Homo sapiens: one gene and its partners. The protein of the gene in region 6 purifies or fractionates together with the protein of the main gene of each other region. This does not show direct contact. Each region holds a gene or a part of one and is shown on either strand. Other genes may lie near its edges.

Region 1 (3,500 bases), on a different chromosome or scaffold from region 6:
GAAAAATGTATGTGTATTTATATGACTGTCCTCTTTGTTGACTTATCCTTTTTCACCTCACAAGAACTAGTAGGGCCAGACTTTCTTGTCCTGCCATTTCTTTCTAAAAGAACTTCATATTGTGATAAGTAGTGGTATTGACTTTCAGAAGAAAAGCTTATATAAATGAATTTACCCATTCCTACCCAGTCCATAGCTTTTGGTTTAACTCTGGATCAGTGGGTGGCTCATATTTTGCAGAGTAAGGGTGCAGTAGGGAAATAATACCTCATTCCTTTATGAAAGGGTTAGAAATCTTTCTATGAACCTGACAGAGTTAAATGATATTTCCTTAAAAGCTGAATGGGCTGCCTGAGAGGCCAGTTAGGAAAGGCAATATATTTCTGGAGCCTTCAGTAATATATTCTCCCCTACCCCCATCAAGGTCTAGTTTGCTGACTTTTTTTTTCTTTTTTTTTTTTCAGAGACATTGTCTTGCTCTGTCACCAAGGCTGGAATGCAGTGGCCATCACAGCTCACTGTAACCTCAAACTCCAGGACTCAAGCAATCCTCCTACCTCAGCCTCCTGAGTAGTTGGGACTATAGGTGCATGCCACCACACGTGGCACTTTTTTTTTTTTTTTTTTTTGAGACAGAATCTTGCTCTGTCATCCAGCCTGGAGTGCAGTGGCACGATTTCAGCTCACTGCAACCTCCACTTCCTGGGTTCAAGCGATTCTCTTGCCTCAGCCTCCCGAGTAGCTGGGATTACAGGCATGCGCCACCACACCCGCCTAATTTTTGTATTTTTAGTAGAGATGAAATTTCGCCATGTTGGCCAGGCTGGTCTCGAACTCCTGAGCTCAGGCAATCCGCCCACCTTAGCCCAAAGTGCTGGGATTATAGGCATGAGCCACTACACCTGGCCACACGTGGCTAATTTTTAAAAGTGTTTTGTAGAGGTAGGGCCTCATTATGCTGCCCAGGCTCATCCTGAACTTCTAGCCTCAAATGATCCTCCCATCTCAGCCTCCCAGAAGTGCTGGGATTACAGGCAGGAGCCACCATACCTGGCTGTAGTTCACTGACTCTTGAGGAAAGCCTGCACCTTGCACACAGTGGATACTTGGTAAATATGCGTTAAATGAATGGTTAAGTACAAGCAGGGCAGGTGAGACCTTGTGCCAATATTTATTACCCGTTAGGAAGAGTTGATTAGGAGTCCCCCAGTTTCAAAGGCAGGATTAAGAGTGAGAGAAAGTGAGTTCGTGAAAGAGGAGACCAAAGTGGAGTGACCTACAGAGGAAATAAGTGAGAGAGATTTGGAAAAAATATCACATGACATGACCACATTTTGGAATAGCTCAGATCAAACTGTAGTAAGGAAGAAAAAAAAATTATGACTGGAACAAAAATGGGGGCTCTTGTTTTCACTGAAGAGTCTTTTACAATGCTAATGAATTTTCACTGAAATAGTTGCTGATGATTAAGTGAAAATACTGGGAAAGTAGCATGTGATTGGGTCAATTAACTTTAGGATGGATGGAGGCAAACTGTGTCATCTGTTATTAAGATAGAACTACGGAAGTAATTGCTGCCCCCCAGACTCTCACGATGACCTCAAAGTTAGAAGTCAATATGAATTAGGTGGGTGGTCAGAATCTTGCCCCATATTTAGTGAGCTAGTTGGGAAAACAGGAACAGAGAGTACTCCTTTTGGCCAGAAGGTGGAGCATGGTGAGTGAGAAACACCATGTAACCTTGAAAAGCAATCGTAATTTATCTGGCCACAAACGGTATTTCAAATGCATCGCAAAGCAAGAAAGAAGTTCTTTCTTGTTAAGCAAATATAAATAGCCTGGCTTATATTTTGCTTGTTTATTTCTACATTCGGAAATCAGGTAATTTTCCCCTCTTTCTTTATAACAACATTGTTTTTTCATTAAGACCAAGGACAGGAACCCAGCATTTTTGAGTGGCTGCAAAATAAATAAGCTCCTACTGAATCCAAGGGGGGAAAAAACTAAAGTGGAAACTCATAGAAGAAAAGCAATTTTGCTTGTAATTTTCTAAAGGGTGAAAACATAAATAATAATAGAGAGAAAAGAGAAGTCAGCATTTTCAAGTTAATATAAGGAAGTTGTGAATTACGTTTCAATGTCAAAAGAAGTATAAGTAATACATTCATAAAGAAGTGAAAGAAAAGATATTCATCTATTTCAAAATAAGCATAAATCATAAAATCAGATTGCAAGTTAACCTGTGATTTTTTTTTCTTTTACCTCACAATATAAAGGGTCGTAGACTTTACTCCAAATTCCAAAAAGGTCCTGGCCATGTAATCCTGAAAGTTTTCCCAAGGTAGCTATAAAATCCTGAAACACAAACAGAGAAAGAAAAATTCCTACACAGGTTTCTCAGCTTCAGCATTATTGATATTTTGGGCCAGACAATTGTTTGTTGTAGGGAGCTCTCCTGTGCATTATAGGATGTTTCACAGTATCCTGGCCTCTGCCCACTAGATGCCAGTAGCATTCCTAATCTCCCACTTGTATAACCCAGAATATCTCCCGACATTGCCAAATGTTCCTTGTGAGGCAAATGCGCCCCTGTTGAGAACCGCTGTTCTTCACAGAAAAATGCACCAGTAATATTGGTTACGATAATGTCATTCCAAAGAATTTTACAAACACGAATTGATTATTCCTTATTATTACATTTAAAATGTAGATAGATGCTGGCTGACTGCCACATGTTCCTGGTTCGTGCTGGAATTGGATTGAAGTGTACTGCCTCAGATTCTTTTTAGAAGTGGGTAAAGTATAACTCATGTGTAAATATGTCCCAGGTGAGAAAGGAAAGCATATTTCAGGCCAAAGCATCCTGGAACATGCAACACAAATAGGGCTTGGTCTTTGGCTATACATATAAAACTTGGATGGAATGCAAATCTTTCGCTAGGTTCTGTATGTTTCTTGGAATGTCGCAATAATGAGACCCAATGTTCAGCTATCTGACTGCTGAAATTGGCAGCCATTTCTGGGAAGCCTTTTTGGAAGATATTGTCTGTCTGATGGATGAAATTTCTAGGGAACTACAATTTGCCAATATTAACCTCAATAGATTTTCATAAAATAATAGAAATTATTGTTAAAGAGCTCCTACTGCCATCTTCTCAAACATAAAAGCTCCAGGGCCAGATGACTGTCATAGAGGAATTCTACCAAGCTTTTCAAGAGTAAATTATTCTAATGCTATTTTAACTGTTCTGGAGCATAGAAGATGAAAGAAAACTTTCAAAAACTTCTTATGAATTAAGTGTAACACTGATACTGACAAAGATTGCCCCCAAAATAAAACTATTAGTTCAATGCCACTTGTAAATATCAATGCAAAAGGTGTAAGTAAAATAACAGGAAGTAATTCAATGTCACATAAAAGGAAATGGGTTTGATTTGAGAAATATAAAGATTGTTCAACATTGGTAAATCTATGAATGTAATCAATCATTGTAATTAAT
Region 2 (3,500 bases), on a different chromosome or scaffold from region 6:
AAGTTGCTTCTTTCTCAGGCTCTTCAAGTTGTGAGATGGTGACCACTCCTGTAAAGCAAATGCAGACAAACCTAGAAGTGCTAGGTTTCCTTCTGTCAAAGAATCGTCCAGAAGAGCTGGGCACACACACCACTGCCCAGTATCATTTATTATTACTACACATGAATCCACATTTGTTCTTTAGATTTTACCTACTTAGAGAAAGGCTAAATGAATGCATTTTAATTGGAGCTTTTATGGCAAACTTCCAAAAGGTCTGACCTTTTGATGTTTTTATAAAATACTTACAAAATGAAAATAATGAATTCAATGATAGTATTGCCTATTCCTCGTCTCCTCCCCCATCTCTTATGTGCACACGATAAGACAATCACAGTTCTCGAACCAGGGTCCTTTATCATCCATAGATTCCTCCAAAATCACTTGTTTTATTTATATATTCTTTTATATTCCACCTATTGTAAAGCCTTTTAGTCCAATATCCTCGCATATGTATAAGTTCTTAACATGTAGTTATTATCTAATTTACCTAAATAGTATTGTGTTTATATGTGTGTGTGTGTGTGTGTGTGTGTATATATATATATATACTTCATCCTGTTTCTTACTCTTTCCACTGTATTTAAGTCCTCTTCCTCCTGTTTCTGCATGCTACGTAATACTCCATGGGTGCATCAGCCAATTGTTAATCTGTCTCCTCTCTCAGTAAAAACACACAGATGGTCTCCAAACTCACATCATGACAAAACACACCAGTCAATATCCTTGCAAAAGTTCATTTACGACCAAGAGCTCAGCGGACACAGAAGATGTCTGTGTTTGCCCAAGTGCTGCCAGCGTGCTTTACAGAATGGCTGCATTGGTCTACATTCCTACCAGCAATGCACAAGGATTCCCATACCCTATGTTCCACCCGTACTTAACACTATATGGCTGTCCAGTTTTTGTTAGTCTAAACGGTAGATCCATATCATGGTTTGAACATCTCTGAAAACTGATGAGTTTGAACATTCCTTTATATGGCTTGTTGGCCTTTTAGGTTTCTCTGCCTCTCATTAGCTCTTCACAGACTTTGTTCATTTTCTCACTAGGGTTCCCGCTTTTTTTCACTGTTGACTTGCAGGAGTTTCTAGTTAAATTTAGACACTGGAAAATTTGTTTTCCCAAAATGTCTTCTGTATTTAACTTTGACATCTTCATCAAACAAAAAGCATTAATCTTGATTAATTAAATGCATTGTTTCTTTTTTTTTTTTGCCTTTTGGTTTGAGCTTCTGATGTCTCCTCCTGCCTCTAGGTCACAGCAATATTTTGTATTTTGTTATATTCAATTTTATAGCTTTACATTTTTACATTTAGGTCTTTAGTCCTGTGACACTCACTTCTCTATACGGTATTAAGTAGAGATCAAGTATTTTTCTCCATAAAGTGAGACAGTTTTCCCAACACCGTCTACTACACAGTCTGTCCATCCTCTTTGATTTGTGCTACTTTACTGTATATTAAGTCCCCAAATATTCATGGGTCTGTTCCTGAGCTCTTTATTAGGTTGACTCACTTTCTATTCTTGTGCCAATACAATACTGATTTTATTTCCATGGTTTTGTAAGATGTACTAATATCAGGTAGGAAGGGCCAACCCCACCCACACCTCCCACATTTACTCCTCTTTATTCAAGGATGACTTAGCTATTTAGGACCTTTATTCTTTCATAAACATTTTTGAATATGTTTACCATATTCCTCAAAATATCCAAATGAAACTTGAATTGGAATTGCACTAATATGATATTAGGTTGATTTATCCAAGAAAATAAGAATTATCTCCATTTATTTAGATCATCTTCTCTGAACACACATTTTTAACCAAAAAAATGACATTGGCAGTAATGATTTTGATTCAAGCTTAAGCAAAACATTCACCACATACATATATACCTAAATAAGCTATTAAATTCTTAAATTGTAACTTACCAAAGCAGTTATTGTAGGGAAGTTTTTGGACATCTCTCTAAGAAGGGTACAAGTCCTAACATCCCATAGCTCCAGGGGTTTATCTCTGAATACGACTGCCAAATACTGCCTAAAATAAACAAAATTACTAAATAAGCCCCTTTTTGCAAAAATTTCACCATGAATTAGAGCAAATAAAAAGTTCAGTAAATTGAAAAACTCAGCTGACGCATTCTAAATATAGACAATTTAAACTACCATTTAGCACCATGATTAACAGTCATAAGAAGGTAAAGCTCTAAGTGACCTGTAAGAGAACATACAGTCTCACACAATTAGGCAAGGAGTCCAACTTGGAAGAAAGAGTGGCATAGATTCAAACCCTGATGCCACAACTTATGTTAACCCTCCTGAGGCTCAACTTCTCACACATGACAGGAGAATCTCATCATGTACCTCAATTAATTGATATACAGATTATGGTAAACATTCAATGAAAAAGTATGTAAAGTTTCTATCATTCTACTACAGTTGGTATTCAACAAATGCCACTTTATTCACTTTCTGTTAAGCCTGAAAGAAGTACTGAATGACATCAACGAGTGCAATTCAACAAATATAATTTGAGCACTGATTACTCAATAAGCATTATGAGGAACTAAAATATTATCAGCAAATGATGGCTGACATAGAGGAAATGTGACAGAGTAGGAAGATCCCTGTACTCCCTGTATCAAAGGACTGAGATTCTTCCACTCAGGACCATGTGTGACCCCAACAGAAAGTAGAAATTTACAGAAAGATACCTGGCAAAACACCCAAATAGTTTGAAGTTAAAAAATATACCTCTGAATAACACCCCATGGAAATTTTTAAAGATTATAATGTGAATTAAAATGAAAACATATAACCATAACAAAAATTGTAGGATACAGGAAAACTGGTGCTCATATAGCATTAACTGTTTACATTACATTTTAGAGAATCAACTTAATTCAATTATCTAAGTTTCTATTTTAGAAAACTATGTAAAAAAAGGAGAGCATATTTAAAAAGTAAGCAGAAGAACAAAAGATAAGCATGACAGACAATGAAATTGAAAATGGAAAAATCATAGAGAAGAATCAAATGAATCAAAAGTAGTTTCTTGGAAAAGATCAATAAATAAAATTGGTTGATATAATTTACTGATATTAGGAGTGGGAAAGATAATCACTGATCATAGATCCATGATGAACAAGCTTATTTCAATAAATTAATAAACTCAGCAACTTCAACAAAATGGACAGATTACTTGGAAGACACCAATTACCAAAGCTCAAAAAAAGAGAATCTAAATAGTCCTATATTTATGAAAAAAAAAAACAAAACTGAATTTGTATTTAAAAACTTTGCCACAAAGAAAATTTTAGGTTCAGATGGGTTTCCTAATAAATTTTTCCCATTTAGTAAGAATAATATCAATTCTACACAAACTCATTCAAAAAAAAAGGAGAGAGAATACTTTACAACACGTTCTGCAAGGTCAGTATTACCCTGATACCAAAA
Region 3 (3,500 bases), on a different chromosome or scaffold from region 6:
GTAGAGAATAATTCTTGCCAAATGAGAAAACAAGCATGGAACTACCAGCATGCCCCCCAAAAAGGTACAAAACAGAGCTTTATTGAATTGTATTCTACTACCTTACAAGAGAGCCAAACTGAATGCTCGTTTTCAATGAAGTCAAGTCTATTTTTAAAAATTATTTGCTGCTTTTTTAGTTTTTAAATGTAAAAAGCCCTCTGACTTTCATGGAAAATGTTCATGAAGAAAAACAATGTCAGAAATATTATGCTTAAAATAAGAGTAACAAACAGGAGTGAAAGACTACCAGGGCAACAGAATAGACTAACCAAAATAATCTGATAAATAAACAAATTTTTTTTTAGAAAGAAGAAAAAAAAATCATGGAATGAACTATGTTTAAAATGTGTCCCAATTATTATAAAGTTTTTCATATTATTTGGAAAATTTATGGAGACAACCCAAAGTCAAAAATTACTAAGAACTAATATACTTTTTCTTTTATGGCATATTTTCTTACCTCAGGCAAAAAGAGGACATTTGAATTAAGATTATTTTATAGATAAAATGAGTCCATAAACAGTACTCTAAAAATAATTTTTATCAGAATTAGAATGAAAAATCTACTTGCTAATACAAATTGTTGTTAGGTGGAATGGATCAGTGTAGAGTTTCTTAAAGTCTGTACATGGAATAATCTCAGTACTATGAAATATGTATTGAAAAGAAAGATTTACGAATGTGAAAGAGTAGTGGTCAGTTCCACCCCAATATAAACATGGCTCTACTTACCTAAGTTATTTCTATATCGTAACTGATTGCGGATACTGTACAGGACAACCTGCTTTTCATATTCTCTCTGTGAATTTCCAAGACTCTAGGAGAAATTTCAAAAAGATTTTAAACAACTTCCAAACTGAACAATAGTACTATTTTTTCCCATAACACACTTTAAAACCACGACCCCCATTTTTATCCTGGCATCTCTAATTTGCAGAATTAAATAAAAAATATTTTCTTAAATGTTATTATACTAACTTTCCTGCTACAGTATTCAGAGCAAAAATTCTATGTATTTTCAGTCTGCCTTTCTAAAAGAGTTTACTAAAATTATCCGAAGTATTTAATATCAAATAAAAACCGGTAGGTGAGTGTAACTTCACTTTGGTTAACAAAGAACTAAGTTCTGCTTATAAAGATTTCCTTCCTGACTGCTATATTAAGTGGTTGGATAGATGGTTTCCTGCCCCTACATTTATTTAAATTTAAGAATGGCAACTAAGGACAGATACATCCCTCTTTGATAATTGTAGCTGAGGGTTATAATTATTAAAGATTAGGATTTCTGGAAAATTTACATTTAAATGTACGTAAGATTGTTTCTTAAAAATGCAATCTCCTGTGGCCTCATTAGAAGGCATTTAGACAATTTTAGAATTCGGAGCCATTTTTAATAAGCTAAAGTCTTTCTAGTATGCACTTAGTGTTTTGTTGCAGTGTTCCTGAAAGCAAACAACGTTTGCCTGATTATAGTTAACATTATATTCACTGGGAGACCATAAACTTAATTTAATATATGACTGCTATCCTCCTCCTAATTTCTAGGTATGGTCTTTCCAACACACTATAAAGTGAAATTAGACATCTTAGGAAAGTAATGACAGAAAGATCAGAGGATTTAGTTCATCGTATTTCTTACTCATAGGTAAGCCAAAACCAAAGACAGGTCCCTACATCTTTCACTTAAGGCAATCTTCACAATAAGACAGATGAAACTCACATCTAAGTAAACTGACCCATAACTGGACCCATTGGTAGGTAATATTTTAAGAAAAATAGAACATGATGTGTCCCATTTTAACTGTACAATTATGTGCGGTTGGCCCTTGGACAACACGGGTTTGAACTGCATAGGTCCACTTACACTGGGATTTTCTTCCTCCTCTGCCACCCTGAACAGCAAGACCAACACTTCCTGTATTTCCTCCTCCTCCTCCTCCTCAGCCTACTTGATGTGAAGAGAAGGATGAAGACCTCTGTGATGAGCCATCTCCACTTAATGACTAGAAAATATTATGATTTTCATAATAGCATTTTCTTTTCTCTAGCTTATTGTAGTACAGCATATATTAACAATATATATAACATACAAAATATGTGTTCATCAACTGTGTTATGGCCGAGGCTTCCAGTCAACAGTTATAGGCTATTAGTAGTTAACTTCCGGGGAAGTCAACAGTTATAGGCTATTAGTAGTTAACTTCTGGGGAAGTCAAAAGTTATACATGGATTTTCAACTGCACAGGGGTGCAGCACCCCTAAACCCATGTTGTTCAAGGGTGAGCTTTCTTCCTGCATTTAGCTTAGTTTATCACAGGCTAAGCCAGAACCCACGGTAGAACCAGAATGTATGTGCTTATCTTACTTTCATCTGTCTTAACATTATAAGGGGTTAAGAGTAGATCTCATTGTAGAGAAACTACTCTACCATCCTCTTCGTAGCATCAATGCCAGGGTCGTTGTACTGACAATATTTAGAGGATTCAAAATAGCACACTTTTAAAGGTTTTCTCTGTCTCTACTGCTAAATAAAAGTCTCTTTCTCAGGGAACACAAATACACACACATGCATACTCAAACAAGCACACAATTTTGCTAAAATCTAGCTTGAGGTTTTGCTCTTCTGTTTCAAAATAAGTCTCTTAATACACTACCTATGAAATTTGTAAGCTTTGGCTCTCAGCATTAAGTAATAACTGGTCCTGAACCTATCAATCAATACACGAGTGAACACAAATTTCTAAAACCCACATTAAAAGTTGGCTTTATTCTTCACTGGCCAAGTATGTAATATAAATTGCTTCATTCTGAGATTCTTGGGCTCCCTGGGCTCCCCTCCTACTCCTACCCCACATCTCCCACCATTCAAATTTTAAAACACTGTTGCCACTAGAGAAGGTGACTTTTTAAAAAGAAGAAAAAAAAAGTAATTTTACCCCGAGTCAACTCTAGCCCTGCAGAAATACTGACCAGGTCTGACAAATGAAGTTGGGCTGCATATAAAAGGAACTACATCAGATCAAATGGCGATGTAAGAATAAGACACTAGCTATAAAGCACCCATCACAGATTATGCTAAAAACACAAAGATTTTCTGAAATCTTTGCTCCTACAGACTCCAATCCCAGCATATACATCCCCAAGTACACCCCTGTGCCGCATCAAAAAATTTTTTAAATTGACCCTTCTTGGATGATACAGAAACTTATCATAAGATTTCCCTCAAAATAAAAGGGCTATTAATTATTTTGGATAAAGAATACAAGATAGTGGTAAACTACAGAAAAATCCTGAAATAATGGCCCCATCCACAATTTTTTATATATTTTTTAAAAGTCTATCATGACCCATACCACATTTTTTTAAATGTCCTCTCATCCACATAAAAATGAATTAGCTTAAAATACATTTTTTAAAAATCTAAATCACCTGCCCCTAGCTTACAGAACTGGAAAATG
Region 4 (3,500 bases), on a different chromosome or scaffold from region 6:
GTAGCTGAACTAAGTTTTGTAGAGACGGGGCCTTGCCATGTTGCCCAGTCTGGTCTCGAACTCCAAGACTCAAGCAATCTGCCTGCCTCAGCCTCCCAAAGTGTTGGGATTACAGGAATGAGCCACCAAGCCCAGCCATCTTCACAGGAACTTTTAAAGCCAATTTTCCATTTCATGAGGGCTAATTTTGTTAAAACCAGGAAATATAATCCATAAATCTATTTACTCAGGCACAGATAAACTGTAATAGTTTGTAATGGCCTAAAAATTGGAGAAAGGATGCCACGGTCAACCCCCATAAGCTGTGGAATTTGCACTCCCTCAGAATACCACACTTACCATGCTTCACATGAAATCAGTCGTCATACAGAACAAGTTGCCAATCTCAATAAACATGTCAAATATTTATAGCACTTAATTTCGTATGTTATACACAAATAAACAGATGATAATGTTTTCTTCCTTTGCCGAAATGAAGTATTTTAGGTGCAATTGACTTTGGAGACCTCTGGTCTAGTGACGGAGATATAAATATTTGCTGACAAAAAATAATAAATTAAACCAAGTACTTACAAGAGGAATGGCATTGGGTATTATGGAAAGGAACGTAGAAGGGACCCCTAACTCATGATGAGTGTGAGGACGGTAAGCAAAGGCTTCCTCAAGGAAGAGGTGTTAAACAGAGAACTAAAAAACGGGTAAGAAATTGGATTGTGTTGGGAGTGGCTATTGGGGGAACATAGTATTCCAAGCAGAGGGAAAAATATACTATGTGCAAAGGTGCAGAGGCAAAAGATAACACAATACCTTCAAAGAAATACATTAGTTTAATATAGCTGAAGTGTAGTTTCTGGAGGGGTAGAGCTGGGATGAAGTGGGTGGATAGTGATTCCAGAAATAAAACTAATGAAGTAAGATTATAAGCCCTTACCTTTGGATTTTATCTAGAGGGCAAAAGAGAGATAGGTGATGAAGGATGTGGAGTAAAAAACTTGTCCAAAGAGAGGTCCAGATGTTGCCCCCAGCTCCTGGGAGGTAACCTCTAAGCCCCTGGAATTTCTGGAGTAATATGAGTATTCTTACTATTCATGATGGGTCCCTTGAACCACATAGTATCAGCCTAACCTCTGGAGAGGGGAGACTGGAAACTGAGTTCAACCATGCAAACAATCAATAAATCTCAATGAAAACTCTGCTGAGGTAAGAAGATCATTTGAGCCAGGAGTTTGAATCCAGCGTAGGGAATATAGTGAGACCCCATCTCTTTAAAAAACAAAACACAAACTCCAGACACACTAAAGTTTAGGTGAACTTCTTGGGTGGGCAATACCTTGTGTGTATTTCCATACATCCACACATTCATGCTGGGAGGGTATGGAAGGTATATTCCCTGAGAACAATGGAAGTTTCATATCTGCAACCCTCTTAGACTATACCCTAGGCATCTCTCTTCCTTTGACTAATTTGTAGCTTGTCTTTGTAATGAACTGTATCTCTAAGTATAATAGCTTTCAGTGAGTTCTATGAGTTTTTCTAGTGCATTACTGAATCTGAGGGTGGTTTGGGGAAACCCCCAAACTTGCAGTTGATGTTAGAAGTGAGGTTTTGCATAGCATCTTCATTTGAAATTTGTAGTTGCACCCTAACCCCTTACAATAGGATCAGAAGTCTTGAGCAGACTTGGCAGAGTAGAAGACTGTGCCCTTAACCTTAGAGTTTGGCTAACTCTGGGTAAAGGGTAAAAATGTTTAAGCAGTGTGACAATTAAACATTTTGGCTACACTGGGGAAAATATATTGCAGAAGGGTAAGACTGGCAAGAGATGACAATGACAGTGGGAATGAAGAAAGACATATTTAAGAGGTATTTACGAGGTAGAATTAACAAGATGTGACTGAATGTGAGAGGTGAAAGGAGAAGTCAGGGAAAGGAGAAGTCAGGGATGGACCCACCAGAAAGAGTATCAGGTTTTGGTTTTGTTTGTTTTGGGGGCCGTAAAGAGGGTTGGAGGACTGAATTCTGTTTTAGACAGTTTAATCTGAGGAAATTTTGACATCTAGGTAAAGCTGTTCTAGCAGTCAAAGAAAGGATGGAGATAGAGTTGGGAGCCTTTAGCATAACTACAATAACTGAAGTCATGTGACAGATTGATATTGACTAGGGACAAATAAGTCAACCAGACAAAAGAAGGTCAAGGACAGAACACCAATATTAAAGGGGTAGGCAGAATATTAAAAGCTCACAGAGAAGAAGTGGGATAGCCTGAGAAGCAGGAGAAAAACCTGGAAAGCATGATTAACAATGAATGGTATTTTTCCTCTTTTTGCTTATGTGAATGTTCTCCACTTCTTTATTTAATAAATGTGAACGTTTATTATTTTTGAATGAGAAAAAAATGTGCAACTTAAAAATTGGTATTATATAACATGAATCCATATATTTTTCCATTTATATATTTGTAAATTAGATAAAGTTTAATGATTTTCTGACCTAATCCAAAGTCATTAATGATTCACACAATTCAATGTAACTGAATTATTAGTGTCTATAACCAGCGATTTTCTTTTCCAAGCCATTTTTAAAGTGTCCACCCTCATTATTACTGCAAGCCATCTGGAACTACTTAACTGTGCCAGACTCTTGGGATATTGGTTTCCCCCTTGGGAAGTCCAACCCAGACTAAATGAATAACTGAGGAAACAACTGTTCTGAAAATATGATGACAATATAGCTCTAATAATGACTTTATCTTCGTTTAATAGTCTACTGGTAAAAAATGGAAAGAAAAAAGACTTCAGAATATTTGCTTCTTCTGGATTAAAACAAATATATGTTATCTCTAGTAGTGTATAGAGAAATTAAATACAAAATATTGACCCATATAAACTACACAGATAGCCTTATATTCACATCTCCTGTAAGATCAGTTATACCCTTATTTACAAATTATCTCAGTTATAAAATCTCTCACCTCCACCTTTTCAAAGGGCAGCCTCTCCTTAACCTCAGAAATTCTCAGATTGTCATTGAAATTATTTTAATCTCTTGGGGGATTTAAACTTAGAGAAAGGAGTAAAACGTAGGTAACTTTTTTTTTTGAGACAACGTCTCACTGTCACTCAGGCTGGAGTACAGTGGCTCACTGCAGCCTCGGCCTCCTGTGCTCAGGAAAGCCTCCCACTTCAGCCTCCCAAGTAGCTGGGACTACAGGTTCACACCACCATGCCCAGCTAAGTGTGTTTTTATTTTTTGTTTTATTTTGGTGGGGGAGTGGAAGGTGGGCGGACAAGGTCTTGTTCTGTCACCCAGGCTGGAATGGACAGCAGTAGGATCTTGGCTCACTGCAACCTCCGCCTCCTGGGTTCAAGCGATTCTTGTGGCTCAGCCTTTTGAGTAGCTGGGATTACAGGCATGCACCACCATGCCCGGCTAATTATTGTGTTTTTAGTAGAGACGGGGTTTTGCCATGTTGGACAAGATGGTCTCAAACAGGTGTTCCG
Region 5 (3,500 bases), on a different chromosome or scaffold from region 6:
AAATCATCACCAAGGATTCACCGAGGGTGCGTGAGCGGGTGCGTGAGGGGAACGAGGAGGCTCAAACACTGACTGGGGGTTGGGAGTTTGGAGGGAGGGGGAATGGGTGGGGGCCCCAGCCACCCCTCCCCCTTCTAATGCCACGGGAAAGGGGTCCTCCTCTGGCCAGCTCCCCTCCCCAGGCCCCATGTCCAGTTTCTCTCCGGGGAGGTGGGGTGGGAAAGGAAGAGGGTGTAGTGTGAGTGGGCCCCAGGAAGGGGAAGGGCACTGGGGGTGGGGATCCCCCATTTCACATGCACTCACAACACTGATCTCCCAGGGAGCCGGAATGGGGCAGCCGGATGGAGCCAGGCCCCCTTCCGCCCTGGATTATAGGAGGAAGGGATTAGTGTTGGGGGCCGGGGGGCCCGGGGGCATCATGGGGGGCAGGCCAGGGCCCCCGCCAAGGGGAGAGATGTACGTGGGTGGCGCTCCAGGGACGGGAGGCACAGGACTGAGACGGAGCTGGTTCAGGGTGAGCGTCGCGGGAGGCGCGGGCTGGAAGGGGTTGGTGACGGAAGGGCCAGTGGCTGGGCCTCCTGCAGGAAGAGTAAACCAGAGACACGGAGTGGAGTCAGTGGCGCAGCCCACCTGTGTCCATCCAGCATGTGCAGGCAAAGGGCGAAGTGTCCCTGCCCCGTGAGGCACCTCCTCTGGTGGAACCCACAGGAAGGACTTGAGCAGGTGATGGGCCCACACTCACCGCCTGGCAGGAAGGGGTTGGAGGCCTTGGCTCCAGGCGGCGTGGGGCCCGGCCGGCTCACCAGCGAGTCCAGGTCGACGAGGGCTGCATTGGGCCCCAGGAATGACTCCGGCGTCTTCCGGGTGGGGGGCGTGGGAGTTGGTGTGGCTGCAGGTGGGGGGCTGCCCACAGCCTCAGCCAGAGATCCCCTGACCCCACTCATGTCAAACGCCCCAGGGCTTCGGGCCGGCACCTCTCCTGCCAGCAGCTCCAGCTCTCCTGGAAGGATCCGGGAGAGGGGCTCAGACAGGGCAGACAGCAGTGAGGCTCCAACCCGGGAGCAGTATAGGCCATCATAGGGGGCGCTTCAAAGAGCCCGGTGCCCAGAGGCCTCGGGAAGGAGGAACTGAGGTGCAGAGCGGAAGCATCGCTTGCCCAGGCCAAAACCTCACGTCAGCCCAGATTCCCATAAGGTGGGTCTGATTCCAGTGAGCAAACACAAGAGGGATGACAGAAGCAGGTGTCACCCTCTGACAACCAGAGGGCAGCAACTGCTTCAGGGTGGGGCCGTCCAGGGTCTATAGGCCCGCGGGGGAAGGCAGCGGGGGCGTGTTCACAGGTGCCTCCAGGCTCAGAGGAGCCTGCCCTCAGACGCTCCTTGAGTACACAGCCCCAGAGGGAGCTTCCAAGTGGACAGACAGCACAGACACGTGTTCCGGGCCAGCGTGAAGACATCTGTTGGCTAGAGGTCTGATTTTCTGTTTTTTTTTTTTTTTTTTTTTTTTCTGAGACGGAGTGTCGCTCGTTTCCCCAGTTGGAGCGCAATGGCGCAACCTCAGCTCACTGCAACCTCCACCTCCTGGGTTCAAGCGATTCTCCTGCCTCAGCCTCCCAAGTAGCTGGGATTACAGGCGTGCGCCACCATGCCTGGGTAATAATTTTGTGTTTTTAGTAGAGACGGAGTTTTGGCCATGGTGGTCAGGCTGGTCTTGAACTCCCGACCTCAGGTGATCCACCCACCTCGAGCTTCCAAAGTGCTGGGATTACAGGCGTGAGCCATTGCGCCTGGCCTGATTTTCCTTTTAAATAGATTTAAGAATTCTACCTAATGTTGAAAAAATGCACACATTTGTATGGGACAAAAAAGGGCCTAAAAGAAGGAAAACTGCATGCTGGAAGGTTGCTCTACGTTAACCTAGATAATGAGAGGAGGGAAGCGTGGGTGCAGCTCACTCCCTGCAAGCTGCCAGCCTTTCATCAGTGGAAACAGGTTTCTGTACCACAACCTGCTCTTCACTAACAGCTCACTTAAAATAAAAATAAGAGATCAAGGCTGACCTGACTCATCATGGGACAGACAGGTATCAGCTGAGGGCCGCGGCGAAGCACCAGTGGCCCACTATGACCTCGGGCACTCCTGACGAAGAGCCACTCAGGACTCAGCAGATGGGCCCGTCACCGGCGATGGGCGCCAGCTTACGCCAGCTGAAAACCCCAAGGAGCCAGGGCAGCTAAAGGCAGCACCCATGAGGACGCACCCTGGCCAGCCCAGGAGCCACCAGCAGGTGAGTGGCGACCCGGAAGGGGAGCCTCGGCTGCCTTCCAAACCCCTGTCCACGCAGCTCACTGCACAGGACAAGACAGTCCGTGTTCTTTGAGACACCTGGAGAGTTTGCAAGGCACTCAAGCAACGTGGAGGCAGAGACGGGTCAGAGGTCAACATTCGGGTGGGAAACCTTGAGAACAATTCTCAGTTTTTCTCTAAGTCTGCAATTTCTCTAAAATAAAGATGCACACTTCTTTTAAAGACAGGTGGATGGTTCTGGCCCACTCTACCCAACTGAACTTTTCATCCCTAAGTCCAGCCGGCCCTGCCTGGAGTGGGACAAAGACAGCAAGGGACGGGGCTCCCGAAGAGCTAGGGGAGGCTCCCTCTCGCCACTGGGCAGGGGAGGGCAGGGGCTCACCTGCGCTGCTCCCGGAGGTCGGCAGTGCCGTGCGGAGTCGGTCAAAGTCAGAGAACTCGTCGGGCTCCGTGTCGAATCCCCCGGCTGCTGTGGGGTCAGGATGTTCTGCTCAGCCCCTCCCTGGGGCCCCGCCTCAGCCCCCACCTCCAGTCCAGGCGTCCACCCCTCCCTTAGGACACTCAACACTAACTTCTCCCACTCACTCCCACCCGGGGCTCCATTCCCACCCCCATTCCAGTACCTGTTGTGCCATTGGTGCTGGGCTTGGCAGGTGACCCTCCCCAGGGATCTGAGAAGGCCGGGGCCGGTGTCCAGGGATCGGAGGCTGAGGGCCCACTGACCGGGACCCCACCTGGGTGAGGACAGAAGAGCATGAGGGGCTGGCAACCTTGACTGCCCAGATGGCTAGGGAGGACCATTGCCTCCAAATCTGTGGCTGTTCACACAAAAGCCCCCCTGCCCCCCAGAAACCCACCCCACCCGGCCTCCCGCACACACACTCAAATTCCAACTGGGCTTCTCTGCCAGGCTCTGCCCCTGGGACCCCAGCTGGGGTGAGGGGCTTCCCCGCAGCCTCTGCCAGACCTGCCCAGCCCTCCCTCAGCTCCCACGGCTCGGCCACCCCTCCCCTGTCCAGCTGGGTGTCAGGCCCCTTCTCCACCTGCACCTCCCAGCTCCACCCACCGCCCTCCCCAGATGCCTACGTCACACACGCTCTGCCTTGGCCAGAGCCTCTCTGCCCCTCGGCTGAGCTGCCATCCCCTCCCCACAGCACACCCCCCATGTCCTCCAAGGCACAATCTCACACACCC
Region 6 (3,500 bases):
TGTCTTTTGTTTTCTGTTTTGTTTTCGAGATGGGGTCTCTCTCTGTAGCCCAGGCTGGAGTAGACTGGTGCAATCATAGCTTCCAGCCTTGACCTCCTAGGCTCAAGCAATCTTCCCAATGAGGTATTATATATTACAAAATAGTTAGAAGTTTTCGAATGAAGAAATGATAAACACATGAGGTGACGGAAATAACTACCCAGATTAGACTATACAACATACACATGTATTGAAACATCAAACTGTACCCCATAAATAGATCCAATCATAATGTATCAATTAAAAAATTTTAATCCGTAACCCCAAATAATGCAAATTAAAACACATAAACCAAAAATAAGACATGAACATTTTAAAATTTGATATTGTCAAATTTCTCCTAGAAAGGCTATGCCAATTTACGTATCTACTAACACGAAATGCAAAGACCCTTTCTTCACATCCTTGCCAACATTTTCCTACCCAGTGGTATGTACTGCTGTTCTTTTTTCTTTGCTTGCCCGCCCCCCGGTTTTTTTTTTGAGACAGAACCTCACTCAGTTGCCCAACCCAGGGTATAATGGCATGATCACAGCTCGCTGCAGCCTGGGGCTTAAGCGATTCTCCCTCCTTAGCCACCTGAGTAGCTAAGACACAGGTGCACGCCACCACGCCCAGCTAATTTTTCATTTTTTTTGTAGAGACAGGGTTTCACTATGTTGCCCAGGCTGGTCTCAAGCTCCTGGCCTCAAGTGATCCTTTAGCTTTGACCTCCCAAAGCGCTGCCACCACACCTGGCCGCACTGCTATTTTCATATTCAAATTCCTAACTCCTAGCAAGACTAAGCATCCTTTCATGCTTCATTGGTCTTTCGTTATTCTTCAGTGAATTGCCAACTTTGCCCATTTTTCAGCTGGGTTTTTATTTGTAGGAGTACTTTATTATAGATATTAACCTTTTGTCACTTAGGTATATTACAGATTATTTCACTCAGTTTATTGTCTTTAGCTTTGATACTATTCTGAATTAAGAAATCAATTTGGAGAGATGTCATCTTGCTTCCTCACCAGCCTTCCTGGGTGCTCTCCAGGACCGTAGTATGAACATACATGCAGGTCATCTTCTATGTCCATCAGCAAAGTTTAATATTTATTTTTTATTTTTATTTTTTTGAGACAAGAGTTTCATTCTTGTCGCCCAGGCTGGAGTGCAGTGGTGCGATCTCGGCTCACTGCAACCTCTGCCTCCTGGGTTCAAGCAATTCTCCTGCCTCAGCCTCCCTAGTGGCTGGGACTACAGGTGCCTGCCACCACGCCCGGGTAACTTTTTTGTAATTTTAGTAGAGATGGGTTTCACCATATTGGCCAAGCTGGTCTTGAACTCCTGACTCAGGTGATCCACCTACCTCGGCCTCCCAAAGTGCTGGAATTACAGGTGTAAGCCACCGTGCTCGGCCATCTTTTGTACATTTTCCTATCATTTCAACTACATTGCAGCTTTCTTGAGAATAGAAACTTTTCTCTCTTTTGTTTGTCTTTTGTTTTTGAGACAGTCTCACTCTGTCACCCAAGCTGAAGTGCAATGGTGTGATCACGGCTCGCTGCAACCTCGACTTCCTGGGCTCCAGTAATCCTCCCCACTCAGCCTTCTGAGTAGCTGGGACCACAGCGCACCACCACGGCTGGCTAACTTTTGTATTTTTGGTAGAGACAGGGTTTCACCATGCTGCCCAAGCTGGTTTTGAACTCCTGTGCTCAAGTGATCCACCCACCTTGGCCTCCTAAAGTGCTGGAATTACAGGCATGAGCCACTAAGACCGGCCAAGAACAAAAACTTTTTTTTTGTTTGTTTGTTTGATTTTTTGAGACGGAGTCTCCCTCTGTCACCCAGGTTGGAGTGCAGTGCACAGTCTCGGCTCGCTGCAAGCTCCACCTCTCGGGTTCATGCCATTCTCCTGCCTCAGCCTCCCAAGTAGCTGGGACTACAGCCGCCCGCCACCATGCCCGGCTAATTTTTTTGTATTTTTAATAGAGATGGGGTTTCACCGTGTTAGCCAGGATGGTCTGGATCTCCTGCCCTCAAGATCCGCCCGCCTTGGCCTCCCAAAGTCCTAGGATTACAGGCGTGAGCCACCACGCCCAGCCAAGAACAAAAACTTTTAATAGCTACAAGCTGCTGCTCTGAATTGTGTGCCAGTGCCTTGCACATAGTGGGTGGTCAATAAATGAGAGTAATGATTACTCAGAGACTGGCACTCAAAAGAGCACAGGCCAAACAGCTACAGAGGGAGCTGCATATGTGAAGCAAAAGCTTCTTGGAGTACTCCACATCTTACCCACTATATTACTCCAAAAATATCAACTGTCCCATATCTGAAATGTATGGACACCATAAGATCCAGTATGGGGTTTGGTAGGATGAAAAGTTTACAACCTACATAACAGCTAACAACAATCTAAGCAACAGGGGAAGGAGGGAAGGAGACAGACTAGAGGGGGAAGGCCCGGGGTCGTGGATCTCAGAAAGACTCCTCTAGCTACAGTAGATACACACTACTGATAACTAGCTACAGTAATACACACTACTAATAGACACAGCACTACAGTAGATACAGCACTAATAACCATTGGCCTACAGGAAAATTTGAATAGGAAGCCCTTCATCTAAAACCACCGCTTGTTCTTCCGAGGTTATGTAGGTCAGTGTTTAGGACAAAAATAAAGTGACAACTTGAGCATACCGTGGATCGAGCTGCAATGATAATTCAGAATAGGAGAAACTCACATTCCATGTTGACACCCTTCTGTAATGACAACAGCAGATACAGCCACAAGAGAATGCAGCCTCAAACATGATCAACTCACTGCCCCCACTTTAAAACGGTCCTTAAAGGCAGCTGTTCTGGAATCTGCCTATGAGGAACACAGAATCTCCAGCTTCCACACGAGTCAGCCTCATCCCTGATCCTTATGGGGTAAAAAGCACCATGGTTCCGAGACTAAAACAGCATTTTCAAAATCAGTGCTAAAATCCTAAAAATGAACCTTGGTATGAGTATTTTCAAAATGAGAAACACAATCTGGATGCACGTTTCTCCTATTCCAGTCATTTGAGAAACTCATATCAAATTCTTACTCTTTCAAAAGACTCTAAACAACTTTTATAATTTAGTATGGAAAAATAAAGCAGCTTGTCAAAGTTAGCATTTAATTCTGAATAAATGATCTGGGTGATTTACTTAAAATCAGGAAAACACACAAACCAGGACAGAAATCATCCTAAGTCTGAGAACAAGAACAATTTAATAATGTCCCGGGAATACTTGGCAAACACACACACACGAAGTTAACTCATCTATTTCACTTCCTTCGTTAGCATTTTAGCTGAAGTATTTCATATTTTCCTTATATGCTCCTGAATCTCTCAAATGAAAACAGTGAATAGTAAAAAACAAACGGCCAGGCGCAGTGGCTTACGCCTGTAATCCCAGCACTTTGTGAGGCCGAAGCGGGCGGATCAT
Region 7 (3,932 bases), on a different chromosome or scaffold from region 6:
TTCTCCCAATACGGTCCAGAGACTGTTCCCCAGACATCCTGCATATGGCAGGTTTGGGGATGCTTGAGGCTGTCCACAGGCCCAGGACAAAGCCTTAAACTGATGATGATGATAATGGTGACAGTTAACATAACTGAATGTTCACCACAAATCAGTATTAGTTACATGCTTTGCACACACAATCTCATTCAATGCCCCTAACTGCCCTTTGAAGTAAGGCCAAACTGGGTTACATCCTGGCTCTGCCACTCACTGGCCATGTGACCTTGGACAAGTTGTTTAACCTCTCTGTGCCTTTGTTTTCTTATCTATAAAATGACGATGATGACAGTGCCCACTTGAGAATTTTGTGAGAATTAGTTAACATATGGAAAGCGCTTACAGGCACTGCTGGGGAGTGGCATTCAGTGCCATTGCTGATATTATTATCATCCCCAGGCAACAGGTGAGGAAACAGAGACTCAGAGAAGTTAAAGGAGTTTCCCACGGTCAGAGAGCTGGGAAGTTGCAGAGCCAGGACTGAGCCACAACACCTACTGCCCTTTCTCTTGTTGGCCCGCAGGCTGAGGACCCAGGATTGTTACATCATGGCACCTCCAAGCCGGGAGGGACCTCAGAACTAACTCAGTCCTGCTCCCCTTCCCAGAAAGGAGTCCTTTCTGTGGCACCCTTGTAAGAAGGTTGTCCAGCCTCTGCTGGCTTCTCAGAGAGGAGGAGCTGCTTGTTCTCCCCTGTATGTGTCCCCAGAGCCTGTGCTCATCCTTCAAGGCTCTGAATGGTACACACACTAGACCCAAAAGAAATACTTGAAGAATATGTGAATGAACGAACTAGGAGCTCTCCACTCCCACCCCTGGGGGGTTTGGCCACCAGGGCCCAAGAATCCCTCATTTGAAGGTATCAGAGCTTCCATCCCCCACCCTGTGGCTGTCCCACCGATGGCCTTCTCTGCAAACCTCCAGTGTGGCTCAGGTGACTCCAGGAAGCTATGGCCTTTATCTCTTATTGCCCCAATCCATCCTCTATCCTCTAAGGAAGCTCTGCGGGGGAGGAGCCAGGCCCAGGCTTCCTGGGACAGGTCAAACCGGAGACACATCTGCCCAACGGGCACGAGGCAGCAGGGGCAGGTGAGTCACCCCATGGCACGCAGCCCAGTCACCCCATGGCAGGCAGGCAGTGGTGCCAAGTGGCAGATACCCCTCCTTCCTCATTACCTCCTTGGCACAGCCTCCGTGGCTGCCCCTTCCTTCAAGAACCACTGAATCCCCTTCCTCCTCCTACTGCCCACCCACCAATACCAGGATTTATTTCCTGGGCTGGCTCTGCTCCCGACTTGGTTCCCTCCCATGACCAGCTCCTCACCCCCTCTCATCCAATGCCCTGGATCAACCCCATCGCTGCTCCCGACTAAGTTCGCCCTGATTTTTCGAGTCTTAGTCTTGGAGACTCGTTCTCAATGGGTGGGCTATTTTCTTCCCACCCCAGGGCACATTTGGCAATGTCTGGGGACATTTTTGGTTGTCACAACTCGGGAGTGTGCTGCTGGTATCTAGCAAAGAGAGGCCCAGAATGCTGCTCTCCATCCTACAGTGCACAGGGTGGCCCCCATGACAAAGAGGTATCGTGACAGCAGTGCTGAGGTTGAGAAACCTGGCCTGAGGAGAGGGCTGGGAGACTTGAGAGGTGAGAGCTGTCCCACAGTTCTGCACCCTCCCCTCCCAGTATCCTGATTACCTCCAAGCCAGGACCCTGGATTCTCCCCAAAAGCCTAAGAAGCCAGCTCCCTGGTGGTCCCCAGAGCCCAGCTCTTAAAACCCTACCCTAACCCTCTTTTCTTCCTAAGAGAGAGAAGATAAGGCCTTACCTCCCTCTACCATGGGCCTCAAAGGCATGACCTGGCACACAGTAGGAGCATAATGCATGGGCATTGAGTGTCTAGAGGAAACCAGGTTGGAAATCTTTATTTTCCAAGTATCAGAGCAGCTAAAACCATAAGACTCCTGAGTAAGACCACAAGCGGGTTTAAACCCTGGCTTTGCCACTTAGTAACTGTGTGACTTGAGCAAATGGCTTGCCCTCTCTGCCTCGGTTTTCTCATTTGTCTGATGAGATGATGCTAATAATAAGCCTAGCTCACAGGGTTGTTGTAAGGGTTAAATTCAAGATTAAAGTTCAAAACTTAACTCAAGAGACTTGTGAAGCTCTTAGAATAGTGCCTGGCACATGGTAAGTGCTATGTATTAACTTATTTTTTAAAAATGATTCATGCTCTGTTTCTAGGCTCATAGGCTCAGGATGGGGCTGGGGATATCTGCCTGTTCCTATTCTTGTGTGCCCCAGACAGATCCTCAGCCCAACCTGCAGCATCCCTTGGACATAGAAAAGTGCCATCTCTTCGCGGCACCAGCCCCCTCCAAGCCCCCGGTCTGGAGCTCAGTCACTGAAGCCTCTTCTACCTGGCTCAGCCTCCCAAACTTCAAATTCCCTGGCTAAGGTCTTCAGGAAACTCAGTAGAGCAAGAGGAGGACCCAAGCTTCCCTGATTGGCTGCTGTTCCGAGGCCAAGGCTGGGGAGTGGGCCCTGAAGAAGCCCTGCCCAGCCTGCAGGGAGGAAGGTCCAAGGGCATCAGCACCAAGGGCCTGCAAACCACTAGGCCTCTGACTCTTACCCATAAATGTCCACGAGGGTCTCCACGCCAGCCACACACACCGCGCTGGTGGGATGCTCCAGGGACACACGCACGATTCTCTGCAGCGACATGCTGGTGTTGGACTTAGCTGTGGCCGCCAACCCCAACACTGCCCCTGAGGCCCCTTAGGATGAGGTTTAAAAGCCCCTGGCCCCACCCCTCCAGCCCAGGGTGCCAATTCATTGGCTCCAGTCATGAAAGCCCAGCCCCTTCCCAGAGCTGAGAGCTCAGGATTGGCTGGAAGGGACCCAGTATTTGTATACGAACCTGTTGTCCCGACCCCGGCACCCAGGAAGTTAATTTCTTGGGAAGCAAGTCCCCACAGGTACCTGGCTAGGCACCAGGAACTGTTGGGGGCAGGTGCTGTTGAGGGGGTGCAGAGATATATGATATTGATCTCGGACGCTTCTTGCTTCCTCACCTCCATTTTCTGCATTTTCAGAGACTATAATGGGGAGCTTTCTTACTCTGCTGGGGAAGCTGGTGAAAATGCGGATTCCCAGGTCTGTTGTCCACTCTGATCCAGCAGGTTAGGGGTGCAGCCTGGCCTCTGGATTTTTTTTTTTTTTTTTGAGACGGAGTTTCACTCTTGTTGCCCAGGCTGGAATGCAATGGTGCGATCTCGGCTCACCGCAACCTTCGCCTCCCAGGTTCAAGCAATTCTCCTGCCTCAGCCTCCCGAGTAGCTGGGATTATAGGCGTGTGCCACCACTTCCGGCTAATTTTGTATTTTTAGTAGAGACGGGGTTTTTCCATGTTGGTCAGGCTGGTCTTGAACTCCAGACCTCAGGTGATCCACCTACCTCGGCCTCCCAAAGTGCTGGGATTACAGGCATGAGCCACAGCACCCGGCCCTCTGGATTTTTTAATAAGCACCCCCAAAGCATTTTGGTGCCCTTTGAGAAACACCAACTTTTTTTTTTTAATGGATTTTAGAGCCAGACCTGGGTTTCAGCCCTGCCTCAGCTGCTTCCTGGATGGGCGACCTTGGGCAAGTTTCTTTTTTTTTTTTTTTTTGAGACAGAGTTTCGCTCTGTCACCCAGGCTAGAGTGCAGTGGCGTGATCTCGGCTCACTGCAAGCTCCACTTCCCGGGTTCACGCCATTCTCCTGCCTCAGCCTCCCGAGTAGCTGGGACTACAGGCGCCTGCCACGGCTCCCGGCTAATTTTTTGTATTTTTAATAGAGGCGGGGTTTCACCGTGTTAGTCAGGATGGTCTCGATCTCCTGACCTCTTGATCCAC

The links.
Region 1: the proteins of KDELR2 (region 6) and ACP3 purify together in Homo sapiens (affinity purification with mass spectrometry; one large-scale study listed by BioGRID and IntAct). This does not show direct contact.
Region 2: the proteins of KDELR2 (region 6) and WDR11 purify together in Homo sapiens (affinity purification with mass spectrometry; one large-scale study listed by BioGRID and IntAct). This does not show direct contact.
Region 3: the proteins of KDELR2 (region 6) and FAM91A1 purify together in Homo sapiens (affinity purification with mass spectrometry; one large-scale study listed by BioGRID and IntAct). This does not show direct contact.
Region 4: the proteins of KDELR2 (region 6) and PPM1E purify together in Homo sapiens (affinity purification with mass spectrometry; one large-scale study listed by BioGRID and IntAct). This does not show direct contact.
Region 5: the proteins of KDELR2 (region 6) and EPN1 purify together in Homo sapiens (affinity purification with mass spectrometry; one large-scale study listed by BioGRID and IntAct). This does not show direct contact.
Region 7: the proteins of KDELR2 (region 6) and PADI3 purify together in Homo sapiens (affinity purification with mass spectrometry; one large-scale study listed by BioGRID and IntAct). This does not show direct contact.

The regions. Positions count from the first base shown.
Region 1 is NC_000003.12:132,341,407-132,344,906, reverse strand, and holds part of ACP3 (prostatic acid phosphatase isoform PAP precursor), read right to left. Parts: intron 2,356-3,500; coding exon 2,263-2,355; intron 1-2,262. UniProt on the Homo sapiens protein: A non-specific tyrosine phosphatase that dephosphorylates a diverse number of substrates under acidic conditions (pH 4-6) including alkyl, aryl, and acyl orthophosphate monoesters and phosphorylated proteins.
Region 2 is NC_000010.11:120,882,362-120,885,861, reverse strand, and holds part of WDR11 (WD repeat-containing protein 11), read right to left. Parts: intron 2,083-3,500; coding exon 1,974-2,082; intron 49-1,973; coding exon 1-48. UniProt on the Homo sapiens protein: Involved in the Hedgehog (Hh) signaling pathway, is essential for normal ciliogenesis.
Region 3 is NC_000008.11:123,771,439-123,774,938, reverse strand, and holds part of FAM91A1 (protein FAM91A1), read right to left. Parts: intron 2,046-3,500; exon of another isoform or gene 1,907-2,045; intron 860-1,906; coding exon 775-859; intron 1-774. UniProt on the Homo sapiens protein: As component of the WDR11 complex acts together with TBC1D23 to facilitate the golgin-mediated capture of vesicles generated using AP-1.
Region 4 is NC_000017.11:58,758,854-58,762,353, reverse strand, and holds part of PPM1E (protein phosphatase 1E), read right to left. Parts: intron 1-3,500. UniProt on the Homo sapiens protein: Protein phosphatase that inactivates multifunctional CaM kinases such as CAMK4 and CAMK2. Dephosphorylates and inactivates PAK. May play a role in the inhibition of actin fiber stress breakdown and in morphological changes driven by TNK2/CDC42.
Region 5 is NC_000019.10:55,692,226-55,695,725, reverse strand, and holds part of EPN1 (epsin-1), read right to left. Parts: intron 3,041-3,500; coding exon 2,930-3,040; intron 2,776-2,929; coding exon 2,689-2,775; intron 1,001-2,688; coding exon 743-1,000; intron 579-742; coding exon 370-578; 3' UTR 1-369. UniProt on the Homo sapiens protein: Binds to membranes enriched in phosphatidylinositol 4,5-bisphosphate (PtdIns(4,5)P2). Modifies membrane curvature and facilitates the formation of clathrin-coated invaginations. Regulates receptor-mediated endocytosis.
Region 6 is NC_000007.14:6,477,653-6,481,152, forward strand, and holds part of KDELR2 (ER lumen protein-retaining receptor 2), read right to left. Parts: intron 1-3,500. UniProt on the Homo sapiens protein: Membrane receptor that binds the K-D-E-L sequence motif in the C-terminal part of endoplasmic reticulum resident proteins and maintains their localization in that compartment by participating to their vesicle-mediated recycling back from the Golgi.
Region 7 is NC_000001.11:17,247,966-17,251,897, reverse strand, and holds the start of PADI3 (protein-arginine deiminase type-3), read right to left. Parts: upstream 2,801-3,932; 5' UTR 2,761-2,800; coding exon 2,669-2,760; intron 1-2,668. UniProt on the Homo sapiens protein: Catalyzes the deimination of arginine residues of proteins.